Linked DNA regions of Homo sapiens. The protein of the gene in region 1 interacts with the protein of each later gene in a pairwise test. Each region holds a gene or a part of one and is shown on either strand. Other genes may lie near its edges.

Region 1 (7,026 bases):
GCTTAAATGGCCTCGCCACCTCCACATTTGCACACTAGAATTAATGCTCAGCCACCTCTGCAAGGAAAGCTCAGAGAAAGGGAAGAAAAGTAGAAAATAATAGTAGTAATCACAGGGTTTGGGGCTTTCGGCTTTGACATTGATTTCCTTTGTGTTCTCAAGCAAGCCCCCTAACCTGTCAGTGTCATTTTTGTGTAACTATGCAGGTGGGCCTTCCCTTAGGGAGTGCATGTGTTGATGAAGAATGTGCTTGAGTGAATTTGTATAATCACATCTTTTCTATGGACTCACAGGACAACTTAAAAGGAAGCTTTGGTCAATCTGAAACAGATCAGGGTTTTTCATATGTTGGCTTTGGCATTGTCCGCCTCCTCTGCACAGTCTCTCCCACACCCGCTTTGCCTCTCCCTCAAGCAGATAATCATCCATGAAGAGTCCACTAGGCACCTTTGCTAGGACCAGAAGCCCCTCTTAAAAACTGCAGACTACTTTGGGGGCAAGCCTAGTTCCTCCCTAATATATGTAGCTTGTGTAGATGTTTTTGTATTGGGTTCTTTTACATGGAATGCTTCTGGGGTGATGGTGACTGTTATCGGTTGAAATGTACCCTCCCCGCAAAAATACAATGAATTTGTATGTTTCAGTTCCGTATCCCAATACTTCAGAATGTGACCTTATTTGGAAAGAGGGTTGTTGCAGATGTAATTGGTCAAGATGAGGTCATACTGGAATAGAGAGGGCTCCAAATCCAATATTACTGATGTTCTTATAAAAAGGGGAAATTTGGACACAGAGCTATGCACACAGGGAGAACGCCATGTGAAGACTGGAGTTATGTTGCCTCAAGCCAAGGGAACTACCAATAGTTAGGAGAGGCCCCTGGAACAAATCTTTCCTTGGAGTCTTCAGAGAGAGCATGGCTCTACCCATACCTTAATTTCGGACTCCTAGCCCCTGGAACAGTGAGACAATAAATTTCTGTTGTTCAAAGTTATCCAGGATGAGGTTCTTTGTTATAGCAGCCCTAGGAAACTAGCTCAGTAACTTTTCAAGATATTTTTAAAAATAACTAAGATTGCCAAGATGGCATTTGAGGTTTGTAGCGTGGGTTCAGAACATGTTTATTGGTATAAAATGTTTTGTTTTTTGGTTTGTTTTTGTTTTGCATGCAGTAGATATTCTGTGTTATCTTACTTCTCTCACCTGTCGTGGCCAATGAGGAAGTATTCCCTGTTAGTGGTTCTGATGGACATGACCTCATCAGGGTGGCATTTAAACATCTTCTGCACAGATTGCATCTTTTCCTGGCTACTTATGCCAACTTCTACACTGGAATTTCTATTAGATATAGACACAAAGTATTAAACCAAGGTAAATACAGAAATAGAAAACTAATATTTTATATTGGGATTCAAATGGAATAAAACTTTAGATGTGCTGGATCCATGTTTCCAAGATTGTCCAATAATTTTAGAAGATAAGTTTGGATTTTTTGATCTGGTTAATTAATTGAAATTATTTTGTTTAGCCTAAGATTCAAAAATTTCTATTTTAATTGGATTCTTGATTCCACAAATTATGTTTTTCAATTTTGGGGTGCACAATTTATTAAAGAGAAGACCAAAAAAAGCTGATCTAAATATTTTTTAAAACTCTATCTTGACTTTATAAAATGACAATTTCATCTGCTCCCTCTCATCCACAAATTATGTGAATCAAACTCCTTAACTGAATGCCTGTTAATTAAAGACTTATCAAGTATGACATACAATATGAAACAAATATTCAACTATCTTTTAACTCAAAGTGCTCACTATTTTAGCTCCTATTCAGTCACAAATATTATAATCAGCTTGAAGCAGGTTCCTTTGGTCAATTATGTAAATTTCAATTTGCATGCAACTTGTTACTGTTTGACTTTATAGTATTTGTTGTTATAAAAGTTTTCCTGCTTGGATACACACTGATCAATTTCAATGGAACCTCGGTGATGATGGTCTTTATAATAGGAAAGACTAAAGCTCTTTTCCCCAGCCTTTGACAGGATGAAAAACCGCTTTTTCCAAGAGGTCTGAAAAATAAAAAGATTTTATGTCTTAGTTAAATCTCAGAGGAAAAGAAATGATTTTTAAAAATGCTCATGAGGCTGGTGGGAGGCTTGTTAAATCACAGCAAATACTTACCACAGAGGAGAACAGCTGAGAAGGTGGTGATTTAATAAAGTAATCTTGTTTGCAGACTTCATTTTCATAAGAAAATGTAAATTGTTTGCCTAATAAAAGTGAACAGAACTCAGTTTGTTCCTCATAAATTTCTGAAAAGAACTGCCTCAATTGGAAAACACTGTTTATCTCTGGAAAGACCTTCAGATTATTCAGTAGTTATGGAAAAGGACACCTATAATAACCCAAGAAAACAAAGGACCAAATGTATGATTCTTATTCCTCCACAGCCGAGACCTTCATTCAAACAACATTTGAAACCATGTTAATTCAGCTCACACCTGTCTGGCTTTCTGTTTCTAGAGTATGTCGTTGGCTCTCTACGTGTGAGCAAAGATTTGGCTGTATTTCCATTGCAGAAGCATGATAATTCTGCATTGCCCTTTGGCTTAGCAAACAAGAGCAAAAGCACCTGCTATTAAAAATGAAGTGGCAAAAACTATCTGGGGAAGGGGGACAGGTAGAGTTGCTGCAGAAGTTGGAAAAGGAGTGAAGGTAAACACAGCCACCTCCCCAGAATTACTGGATACTATCCTAATAGCCCCAGCTATTACCAAATACTGTATTACCAAATCTTAAGTCTGTTTTCACTTAATAAAGAAGCTCTAATTTTTTTAGTAAAGACTGCCCTTTCCAAAACTGAGGACAAACTAAACCTATAGCCTGGATGTGAAAGCAAATCCAAGCTAAAACAAAAACAAAAACAAACCCAAAATGAAAACAAAAATAACAACACTGTGTTTAACAACATTGTGTTTTTCTAAATAGTGAATATGATACATATTTATTGTAGACATTTTAGAAAATATAGAAAATATTAAAACTGCCTATAATTTCATCACTTATAGAGAAGCAGTTAACATTTTAGAAACTTCTTTATTTAATCACTTCTGCCACCCCGTTTTCAATAGTGAGTGGTTTTGCTTTTGTCTGCTAAGCCAAAGGGCAATATATACTGTCTCCCTCAAGTATTCAAGAGTGTCGATTAACACATGTGTGTGCTGAAACTACCTGAGGCCAGAGAAAGAACCATTAAAATACATCAGAGATTCAGAAAAAGTGCTTGTTACCTCCAGCCATACTGGAAAAACTTATAATTTACAGGGCATTGGGTAGAGTACTCAGGAATGTCTTGCCTCAGTGTGAGGAATAATTAGCTCTACACTAATTACTAGTTCTACACTGAGCACTGCTCCAAACCCACCTAAAAAATCATGAAAGACTTAGAAGAAAGTTGTTCCCAAAAAATTTAACTGTATCCCAGAACAAAGCTCAAGATTCATAGGAATACAAAGATATTCAGGAAACAACAAGGTAAAATTTGCGATGTTTGGCAGTCAATCAAAGTTTACCAGGCATACAAAGAGGAAGGAAAACATGATCAATAATGAGAAGAAAGTCAATCAATCAAAACAGGCCTAGAACTGACACAGATGTTAGAATTGGCAGAGAAAGTAATTAAAGCAGTTATTATCACTATATTTTCAAAAAGTTAGGGAGAGATATAAAAGATATAAAGAAGACCTAAAGTGAAATTTTAAAGATGAAAACTACAATGTCTCAAAAAAACAGCAACAACACTGGATGGGAGTAAGAGCAGATTAAATATTGTACAAGAAAAGATTAGTGCACTTAAAGGCATGGCAACTGTAACTAACAACATAAACAAAGAGTTAGAACATAATTTAAAACTCAGAAAGAGCACCAGTACACTGTGGACAATTTCAAGTAGCCTAGTATATAAGTAATAGGAGTCCCTGAAGTGAGAGAGGGAGAAATAAAAAATATCTGAAGTAATAATGCTAACAATTTTATAAACCTAAAACTATAATCCCAGAGATCCAAGCAGTTCAATGAATCTCGGCACAAGATACACAAAGAAAAGTACACCAAGGCATGTCATAACTCAATTGTTCAAAACCAGCAATAAAGAAAACAAATCTTAAAAGTAGCCAGAGGAAGAAAAGACCTATTGCATACAGAAAAAAGACAAGAAACAGAGATATTGATTTCTCATCAGAAAAAAAATGCAAGCAAGAAAAAGTAAAACAATATATTTAAGGGTTGGGTGTGGTGGCTCACAACTGTAATCCCAGCACTTTGGGAGGCTGAGGTGGTGGATTTCCTGAGATCAGGGGTTTGAGACCAGCTTGCCCAACATGGTGAAACCCTGTCTCTACAAAAATACAAAAATTAGCCGGGCATGGTGGTGCAAGCCTGTAGTCCCAGCTACTTGGGAGGCTGAGGCAGGAGAATGGCTTGAACCTGGGAGGCAGAGGTTGCAGTGAGCCGAGATAGCGCCACTGCACTCCAGCCTGGGCGATAGAGTGAGACTCCATCTCAAAACAAACAAACAAACAAGCAAACTATATTTAAAGTACTGAAAAAATACTCTCATTCAAAATTCTATATTCAGCAAAAATGTCTTTTAAAAATGAAGGCAATTTAAAGACTTTTTAGATATATAAAGGCTGAAATAATTCATCATTAGGAGGCTTGCAGTATAAAAAATGTGAAGGGAAGTCCAGGAAGAAGGGAAATGATAACATAAAAATCTGAATTTAAACAAATTGAAAGCACTGAAATGGTAACTACTGGGGTAAATGTATGAAATTATTTTCTTATTATTGAAAACATTAAAACATTAACTGAACAAAAATAAAGACAATGTATTGTGCAGATTATAACATATGTACAAGTAAAATGCATTCCAACAGTAGCATAAAGGCCAATAGGGAAAAATGGAAATACGCTTTTGTAAAGTTCTTTTATTATATGTGAATTGGTATACTATCACTTGAAGTTAGACTGTGATGTGTATAAACCCTAAAGCAATCACTAAAATAACAAAACAGAAAGTAATGACTAATAAGCCAACAAAGGAGATAAAATGGATTCATAAAAAATTCGATTATTCCAAAAGAAGGCAGAAAAGGGGGAAAGGGAGAACAAACAACAAATAGGACAAACAGAAAATAAATAACAATATGATACATTTAAACCTGACTATATCAGTAATTATGTTAAACGTAAATGGTCTAAACACCTCAATTAAAAAACAGAGATGACCAGATTGGATAAAAAAGCAAGACTCAACTCTATGCTGCCTGTAAGAAACACACTTTAAAGATGAAGATACAAGTGGGTTACAAGGAAATAACTGGAAAAAAAGATATGCTATGCCAACGCTAGTCAAAGAAAGCTGGAGTGCCTATATTAACATCAATGTAGATTTTAAAGCAAATAATATTACCAAGGACAAAGAATATCATTTCATAATAAAGGGATGAATTAATCCTAAGAGGACATAAAAATTTAAACATATATGCCCTTATAACATAGCTTCAAAATACATGAAGCAAAAACTGATAGAACTGCATGAATAAATGGACACATCCGCAATTATAGAGATTTCAATATCCCTCTCTCAAGAACTGATAGAACAAATAGTGCTAAAATTGATTTTTTAAATTTTGGATGCATTTTTAATGTTTTAAATAATAAGTTTGCTAAGAGTTTTCATTCAAGAAGAGTAATGCTGGCCTCATAGAATGAGTAGAGAAATATTCCCTTCTCTTCAATTTTGTAGAAAATCAGCAAGAATACAGTAGGCTTGAACAACACTACCAACCAACTTTAACTGATTGATATTTATAGAACATTCCACTCAATGACAATAGAGTATACATTCTTCTCAAGGGCACATGCAACATTTATTAATATAGATGTATTCTGGGCCATAAAACAAGTCTCAATAAATTTAAAAGCATTCAAATCATATAAATCATGTTTTCAGAGCACTATGAAATCAAATTATAAATCAATAACAGACCTCTTAAAAGATCCTGAAATAAATAATCTCTAAATTTAAAAAATCCCAAAAATAAATTAGAAAGTTTTTTGAACTGGATGAAAATTAAAACACAAGGTATCAGAATTTGTGGATGCCACTAAAGCAGTACTTAGGGAAAAATTTTTTAATGGCTATGTTAGAAATGGCCATGTTTGAAAAGAACAAAAGTCTCAAATTAATTACCTCAGCTTCCACCTGAAACGTTTCAGGAAACTAAACTGAAAAAAAAAAAAAAAAAAAAAGGAACAAATCTAAAGTCAATAGAGGAAGGGAGATAATAAAGATAAAAGTGGAATTCAATGAAAGAGAACACAGAAAAACAACAGAGACAACCAATGAAACCAAAGTTAATCCATTAAAAAGATTAAGTTAACAAACCTCTACCTAGGCAGATAGACCAGAAAAACTGGAGAGAAAACACAATTTGCCAATATTAGGAGGAGAGAGGGGACATATCTACAGAGTCTACTGATATTAAAAGGATAATAAAGAAATATTATAGACAACTTTATTCCAATAAATTTGGCAACTTAGGTAAACTGAAAAATTCCTTGAACTACACCAACAAAGGTCACTGAAGAAGAAATAGATAACCTGAATAGCCTCCTATAGTTATTAAAGAAATTGGAGTTGTAGTTAAAAATTCTTCATATAGGCCCAAGTGGCTGTACTGTTCTCTTTGATCAAACATGTAAGCAAGAAATAATCAATTCTACACAAAGCCTCCCAAAAAAATTGAAGAGAAGGGAATATTTCTCAACTCATTCTATGAGGCTAGCATTACTCTTCTTGATTGAAAACTCTTAGCAAACTTATTTAAAACATTAAAAAATGCATCCAAAATAAGTAAAAATAAATAAAACATCCAAATGGAAAAGAATGAAATAAAATCATTTCTATTTGCAAGTGACATAATCTCATATGTTAAAAATCCCAAAGAATCCCCAAAAA
Region 2 (7,026 bases), on another chromosome or scaffold:
TTTGGAGATTGGAAGACCTGAGTCCCATCCTGGTTTATCACATCCAGCAGTGACCCTGAGCTTGTCATGCAACCTTTCTGTCCACGTTCTCATCTGGGGATGAAAGCATTTGCTCTGCTCGCCTCACAAGGTTGTTGTGAGGCTGAATGAGAGTGCTGTGTTGTTCAAGGTGTGTCTCCTCCAGCATGGGAGGTGATGAGCCCCTGCTTCCTCACACTAGACCCTCACTTCACCTGGTGGAGAATCTCAGAGGCAGGGCCTACTAACAGGGACCCAAGCTGTGCTCAGGAACCACCTTGGTATTACACCCCAGGTAGCATGAGCTAAAAAACACAAACGTACATTTCCCTCGAAGGAAGCTATTCTGTAGACACAGAATGGTTTCATGGGATAAGTGAGAGGCTTTCTCGGATTAACATCAAACATGACCTCCTTGGTAACTTGTCAGATAGTTTCTTTCTAGGGCTGTTTTTGAATCATAAGCTGTTTTATTCACTTATTAGCAATTTTGATACCTACTGTGTGCAGGCACCATTCTGGGCCCTGGGGGTACAGCAGGGAAGCAACGACACAGAGACCCTGTCTGTGAGCACTTTCGTGTTGGGGGTAAGGAATATATAACAGCCAGGAGGGCTTTTGATGGGCCAAGCACTGTCGTAAGCAACCATTTTTGCATATTAATGCATCTCTTTTGACAACAGCCCCATGCTGTCAGTGTCCTCATCTCACATGAGAGGGAACCAGGGGCTTCCAGGTGGCTCCAAGCCCAGGTTCTCCACTGGGACCTCTGACACCCATGCAGTGCTGCAGGTTAGCCCTCGCTGCTCTGTGCAGCTCACATATGTCAGCTGATTCTCCCAGGACACCTTCTAGGTGGCAGAAGCAGCAGCAATGCTCCTCCCTCCCTGACTGTGAGTGAGGATGAAAACTCTGCTCCCAGACCTCTCACGCCTCATGTCTCTTTTCAGACCTACACGGTGGACATCTTTTCTGCAGGCTGCGTCTTTTACTACGTAATCTCTGAGGGCAGCCACCCTTTTGGCAAGTCCCTGCAGCGGCAGGCCAACATCCTCCTGGGTGCCTGCAGCCTTGACTGCTTGCACCCAGAGAAGCACGGTGAGCGGTCCAGGGGTTGGGGTTGGGAGCAGCTCCTCAGCTGCCTCAGGTGGCCCTGCAGAGCTGGGCTGGTGCCACCTTTGCACTCACAGAGGCCGTGGTGCCCCAGCTGCTCACCCCGCAGGCCTCAGGACCTCCAGACTTGTGCCAAATCTGGTAGAGGGTTGGTAGGGTTATCTCTGGGGCGCCACCTTCTAAAGCTGAGATGCTCCAAGGTTCCTCCAGGTCACCAACTACTTGTGTGACCTAGGCAAAGCCCCCTTTGGAGACCTTCTTTTTCTACCTGGTGACATGAGGGTTGAATAATCAGAGGTCCCTTCCTGCACTGGCATTTGGGAAGACAAATTGTCTTCTCTCTTGGGATGGCGAGTGGTCAGTAGGTGCAGTCTGTGCTGGGCTGGGGACAGACAAGCTTTATCCTCACCCTCCTGGTCTCCTGGTATGGGTGCAACAAGTCTTTCTTCCAGACTTCAGGTTTTCCTGGGTGGTAATTGGCCCATGACACTCCAGTGCTGCCTTTTGAAAAAATTACAACTAAATTATTGTTTTGTTTATGCTTAATTTTTCTTATTATAGAAAACACAGATTAGCATAAAGGCCCATATATTCCCATTATACAGGGATGAATGATGGCTATTGATACCTTTGCATATACGTTATTCCAGTCATTTATCTAGACGTGATTGCATATTTTATAAAAATACAGTTAAATCCTGCATACTGTTTTGCAGCATGCACGTTTTTCAGCGTCACCTTGAATCTCTCTCCACGTCAATCCATATTTAGTCACAGCCGCACTTTAACAGCTCATGGCCCAGCGTAGGGAGGCACCGTAGTGTATCCACTTGGGCCTCTGATACTGGATGTTTACAGTCACTTCCTTCACAAACCATGCAGTGAGGACTCACCTCTTTGGCTGAGGTTTTGTGTCTGTTCCTAATTATTTTATTGGAATAAATTCCTGTAAATAGAATCATAAATGAGAGGGTGTGCAGCTTTTTAAAGTTTTTGGTATTTCACTGTGGCTTTGGACTGGTAGTCATGAGTTGCTTATTTTCCTCCTTTATAGAAGACGTCATTGCACGTGAATTGATAGAGAAGATGATTGCGATGGATCCTCAGAAACGCCCCTCAGCGAAGCATGTGCTCAAACACCCGTTCTTCTGGAGCCTAGAGAAGCAGCTCCAGTTCTTCCAGGTAGAGACGTCTGTTCTCTTTATCCAGAGTCTTCATTTAATGTTTTTCAGATTTTGAAAATACAGAAAAGGACAAAGAATAAAATAAATTGCCCATTACCCTAAAACTGGAAGATAATCATGGCTGATGTTTTAATGTTTTCTTCATATATAAAAGTATAATTGGGATCTAACCGTATATACAGTTTCAGAATCCCTTTTTTTAACTGTACATGATATTTTAAGTTTCTTTCATGTTAAAGTTCTAAAATTCCAATGACCATAGTATTCTATCATATGGATGTGCCATAATGGTTAAGCTTTATATTATGGAATTTCCAAATATATAATACATAAATGTTTAAATGCTATAATGAGCACTCCTTTATTCATCCCTCAGGTTCAATAAATATTAACCTTCACCCTCTCCCCACCCCAGGTTATTTCGAAGTAAATCTCAGGCATCATATAATTTCATTCAAGTGTCATAAGCTTATTTATTTATTTTTATTTTTTTTGAGACAGCGTTTCACTCCGTTACCCAGGCTGGAGTACAGTGGTGCAATCTTGGCTCACTGCAACCTCTGCCTCCCGGGTTCAAGTGATTCTCCTGCCTCAGCTTCCTGAGTAGCTGGGATTACAGATATGCACCACCACGCCTGCCTAAGTTTTTTTGTATTTTTAGTAGAGATGGGGTTTCACCATGTTGGCCAGGCTGGTCTTGAACTCCGGACCTCAGGTGATCTGCCCGCCTCAGCCTCCCAAAGTGCTGGGATTACAGGCATGAGCCACCAGGCCCAGCCCAAGTGTCATAAATTTCAGTGCTTTCTTATATTGTATTTGTTTCTATCATCTTTTACACAGTCTTGGCCCAGATCTCCTTTTGCTTAAAATAGGTTCTGCAAAGTTAGAACTCCTTTGGTGATTTGACTGTTTTAAAGCTTTGTGACAATGTCAGGTGACTTTTGAAGAGGTAATGTGTTTTTCAAAGTCTTCCATGTATGAATTGAACATAACTCACCCGAACGCCTCCTGCCCAGCACGTGGCTCTGAAAGCAGGCTTGTGGGGCAGTGCTTTTCCCCTTGGGTCCAGGCAGAGTGCAGCTTGGTGGGCACCGTACTGAGAAGTGACCATCATGCTCTCCTGGGGTCTGACTGGGGCCTTGGCCAGAGGGAAGCCCCCAGAATGTAAGCTCCTCGAGGACAGGAGTGCTTGACTGCTGCATTCACTACTGTGTCCCTGCCTCCTAGGGAGGACGCTGCCTGGCCCAACCATTCAGATGGATCGGGTTGGGAAGAGTTTAATGCTGTCTTCCATGTTGTAGCATATGGATTGGTCACTGTGTCCATGGACATAATGTGAAAATTCTCAAGTCCATATGTCTTCCAGGGACTTGTGAAAACTAACCAGGTCATTTTGATCGCAAAATATAGAACAGGAATAAAACCCACACAAAGGGACCTTCACCCACCAAGGGACAGGATTTAAATGCTTAGTATCTCCAGGTCATATGTCTCTCGAACACACCTGGCTTCCACTCAGGTCATTTAGCCGTAACAGCTTTGCAGCTCAGACACGTGTGTTCCCAGTGTACCCAAGTTGACAATCTAACCTCTCCACAGCTTCTCTCTGACAATTGTAAATTAGGAGTTCAGCCAGTCTGGCTTCATCTTCATCATAGAAAAGGCTGCTCTGAGAAAAGGGTCTCCTAAGGCTACTTAACATTGATGTAGACAGGGCTCACCACTCCCTGTGTCCTCAGCTGTCGACCTGTCTTACTGGTGGGACTTCAAGAGGCCATACTTGGGTGCTTCCTGACCCTCTCCTTATTACCAAAGTCAAATGCAGAGCAAGGTTTGAATCCCAACAGGAGCCTCTGGAGCCCATACTCTTGCCACCAAGTTTCCTCTTTGAGAAGAAGGCCCAGCTTCACAGGTCTTTTCTACTGGTGGAGGGAAGAGTGGCGACCCTCCACCAGTTATGGGCTTGAGCATACCCTGTTTCAGTGAGTAGACAAAGCACGGGATGCACATCAAATCTGAGCTTTCCTTTTCTTTTTGGTTTTGGTTCATTGGATATAGATTGCACTTGCGGCTCCGTACACATGGCGTGTGTGTGCACATGTGAAATTCAGGGTATGCGTTCGTGGTCTATATGCAGGTGTACTCTGTGACACCTCTCTGACATGGGAGAAGCTCTCTGTGGGCCTGTGCTTCGTGAGGAACAGAGCAGCTCACAGGGAAAGTCATGGATGAGGGAGGGAGGGGGCAGGGTGCCTGCTGCCCAGCTCTGGGGCAGGCTTATGTGTCAGTGATGATCTGTTACTGAGTCCCAGTCGCACAGCTCTCAGCATCTCCAGCACTGACCATCATCTGCTGCCCTTGTTTCTCTCACAGGACGTGAGCGACAGAATAGAAAAGGAATCCCTGGATGGCCCGATCGTGAAGCAGTTAGAGAGAGGCGGGAGAGCCGTGGTGAAGATGGACTGGCGGGAGAACATCACTGTCCCCCTCCAGACAGGTGATCATGCTGCAGCGTGTGAGAGGGCAGGTTGCAAAAGTCGCTGCCGCCTTTCCAAAAAGTAAACGTGGAAATGGCCGCTCCAGGCTGTTCAGGCCCCACATCCCACCTGTCAGGTTTGAGACTTTCTTGGGTGTGTCCTCTGTGGTTTGGTTACACTGATGTGTGTTTCATTTTTGTTCCCTAGAGTGACAGGTGAGTGATGGTGTCGTGCTCTAGGTGGTCATTTCTGACCTGGGTGTGATCACCAGGTGGGGTTCAGGGGGATACCACCCTTGGGTTGGATGGGAGGATCTGCTCCCATGCCTAGGTGTGGAGTGACCTCACCTTTCAGTCCAACTCCCTAATCCCAGGACCCCATGAATTGTTTTCTTTTAAAATGTATTAGTTTTAAATTTGATTACCCATTGCTTCCCTCAATGTTTTTCTAGACCTGCGTAAATTCAGGACCTATAAAGGTGGTTCTGTCAGAGATCTCCTCCGAGCCATGAGAAATAAGGTAAGCAGTTTGTAAATGCTGGGGAGGAGACCCAGTGGCCATGACATGGACACCTTCCTCCTTTCATCCATTCTTTATAAATCTTTTATCTGTACTGGCATTCTCATCTCTCAGGAGCTAGGCGGCTTCAGCTGGACTTGGCAAACTGCAGGCTGTTGCCTCTCTTACGCTGATTTTCCCTTCAGGGACGTAGGTGCAGGTGAAGCTCCGGGAAGCAGTGCTCTGCGGCCCATGTCCCTCATGGTCTCTGGTCGCTGACTTTTGTGGGGCCCTCTCCCTGTCTGATGCAGCCACTGTGTGTAAACATGTATAAACATACCTCAAATGCGGGGACCCCACTGGGACGGACACTCCAATCTCAGGCGACTTTACTCCTCCTGAGGTGGCCAGGAGTGTCTCCAGGTCCTGACTGTCACAGAAGGCCTGAGCACCCCCTGGACTGGCTGGGCCTTGCTCACTTCAAGGCCTCCTCCTGAGTGAGGGTAGCAGGCGAGATGACGGGGCTGGATTCTTGGATACATAAGCCTTTTTTCTTTTTCTTTACCAAAAACCAACACTCACATTCTGTCTCTTCCTTGCATGATGAAAGGGTGTTTTGCCAACATTTCCCGAGCTTTCTAACCCCTTTCTAATCTCCCGAGCTTTCTAACTCTTTGCAGAAGCACCACTACCGGGAGCTGCCTGCAGAGGTGCGGGAGACGCTGGGGTCCCTCCCCGACGACTTCGTGTGCTACTTCACATCTCGCTTCCCCCACCTCCTCGCACACACCTACCGGGCCATGGAGCTGTGCAGCCACGAGAGACTCTTCCAGCCCTACTACTTCCACGAGCCCCCAGAGCCCCAGCCCCCAGTGACTCCAGACGCCCTCTGAGCGAGGGCGGCCCCTCTGTTCTGGTGGCCCCAGCTGTGACTGAGGGCCTGGTCACCACAATTAGAGCTTGATGCCTCCCGGCTTTGCAGGGAGACCAGGCTTCCCAAACCAAGTGCCTTGAGCTGCCTGCTCTGCAGCCCACAGAGGACAGTGCTGACCCCAGGAAGTGGGAGAAGTGGCCCCTCGTGACCTACAGGGAACTGGGAAGATGCTGGCCCCAAAAGCCTTACGGTCATGATGTCTGCAAAGGAGGGCCTCAGAGACAGCGCGAGTAGCACCCCCAGCCATCTACTGGATAAACTTGCTTCAGACTTTTTAAATTCCTGCTTAATGTCAGTCTACAGGCCTTTCAGGAAGGGAGAGGAGGGAATCGTACATTTTGCTTGCGTGCTGGGACAGCTAGGCTGAGATGCACCAAGTACAGCCTTCACTGGAGACCGGAATTGAGAGGTGGGGGATGCTGAGGAGGGGGAGGACGGAGTTCAGAGGGTGTCGTCCTGCAGTGTGAGATTTCTCATTGATCACAGATGTGCCCAGAGTAGCCCAGGTCACTGTTAACTAGTGTTTCTGCAGAGGCAGCAGGAGCCATGAGCATGAGGTGTGGCATTAGGGACTGGTCAGCTATGCATGCTGGCAGGTGGGGTTGTGTCTGCAGGTCTCAGAAATGAAGAGGCTGCTCTGTTCTGGAGGCAGCCGTGGCCCAGTGCCAGTGGCCAGAACAGTGGCCTTTGGTGGGTGTGTCCCGGGCCATCTCGGGGTGGTGCTCAGGAGCGCCTGGGGCAAGAGGTAAAGAGTTCCCTGGCCTTCAAGGAGAGCAGCGAAGACCCAGACAGGGGCCAGCCT

The links. The genes of interacting proteins can lie anywhere in the genome.
Region 2: the proteins of PLEKHS1 (region 1) and ERN1 interact in binary tests that used the Homo sapiens proteins (3 or more experiments, as listed by UniProt).

Annotation. Positions count from the first base shown.
Region 1 is NC_000010.11:113,761,657-113,768,682, reverse strand, and holds part of PLEKHS1 (pleckstrin homology domain-containing family S member 1), read right to left. Parts: intron 3,865-7,026; exon of another isoform or gene 3,303-3,864; coding exon of another isoform or gene 3,293-3,302; intron 2,273-3,292; coding exon 2,184-2,272; intron 2,072-2,183; coding exon 1,965-2,071; intron 1,339-1,964; coding exon 1,204-1,338; intron 1-1,203.
Region 2 is NC_000017.11:64,043,145-64,050,170, reverse strand, and holds part of ERN1 (serine/threonine-protein kinase/endoribonuclease IRE1 precursor), read left to right. Parts: intron 1-968; coding exon 969-1,116; intron 1,117-2,185; coding exon 2,186-2,313; intron 2,314-4,688; coding exon 4,689-4,812; intron 4,813-5,243; coding exon 5,244-5,311; intron 5,312-5,970; coding exon 5,971-6,183; 3' UTR 6,184-7,026. UniProt on the Homo sapiens protein: Serine/threonine-protein kinase and endoribonuclease that acts as a key sensor for the endoplasmic reticulum unfolded protein response (UPR).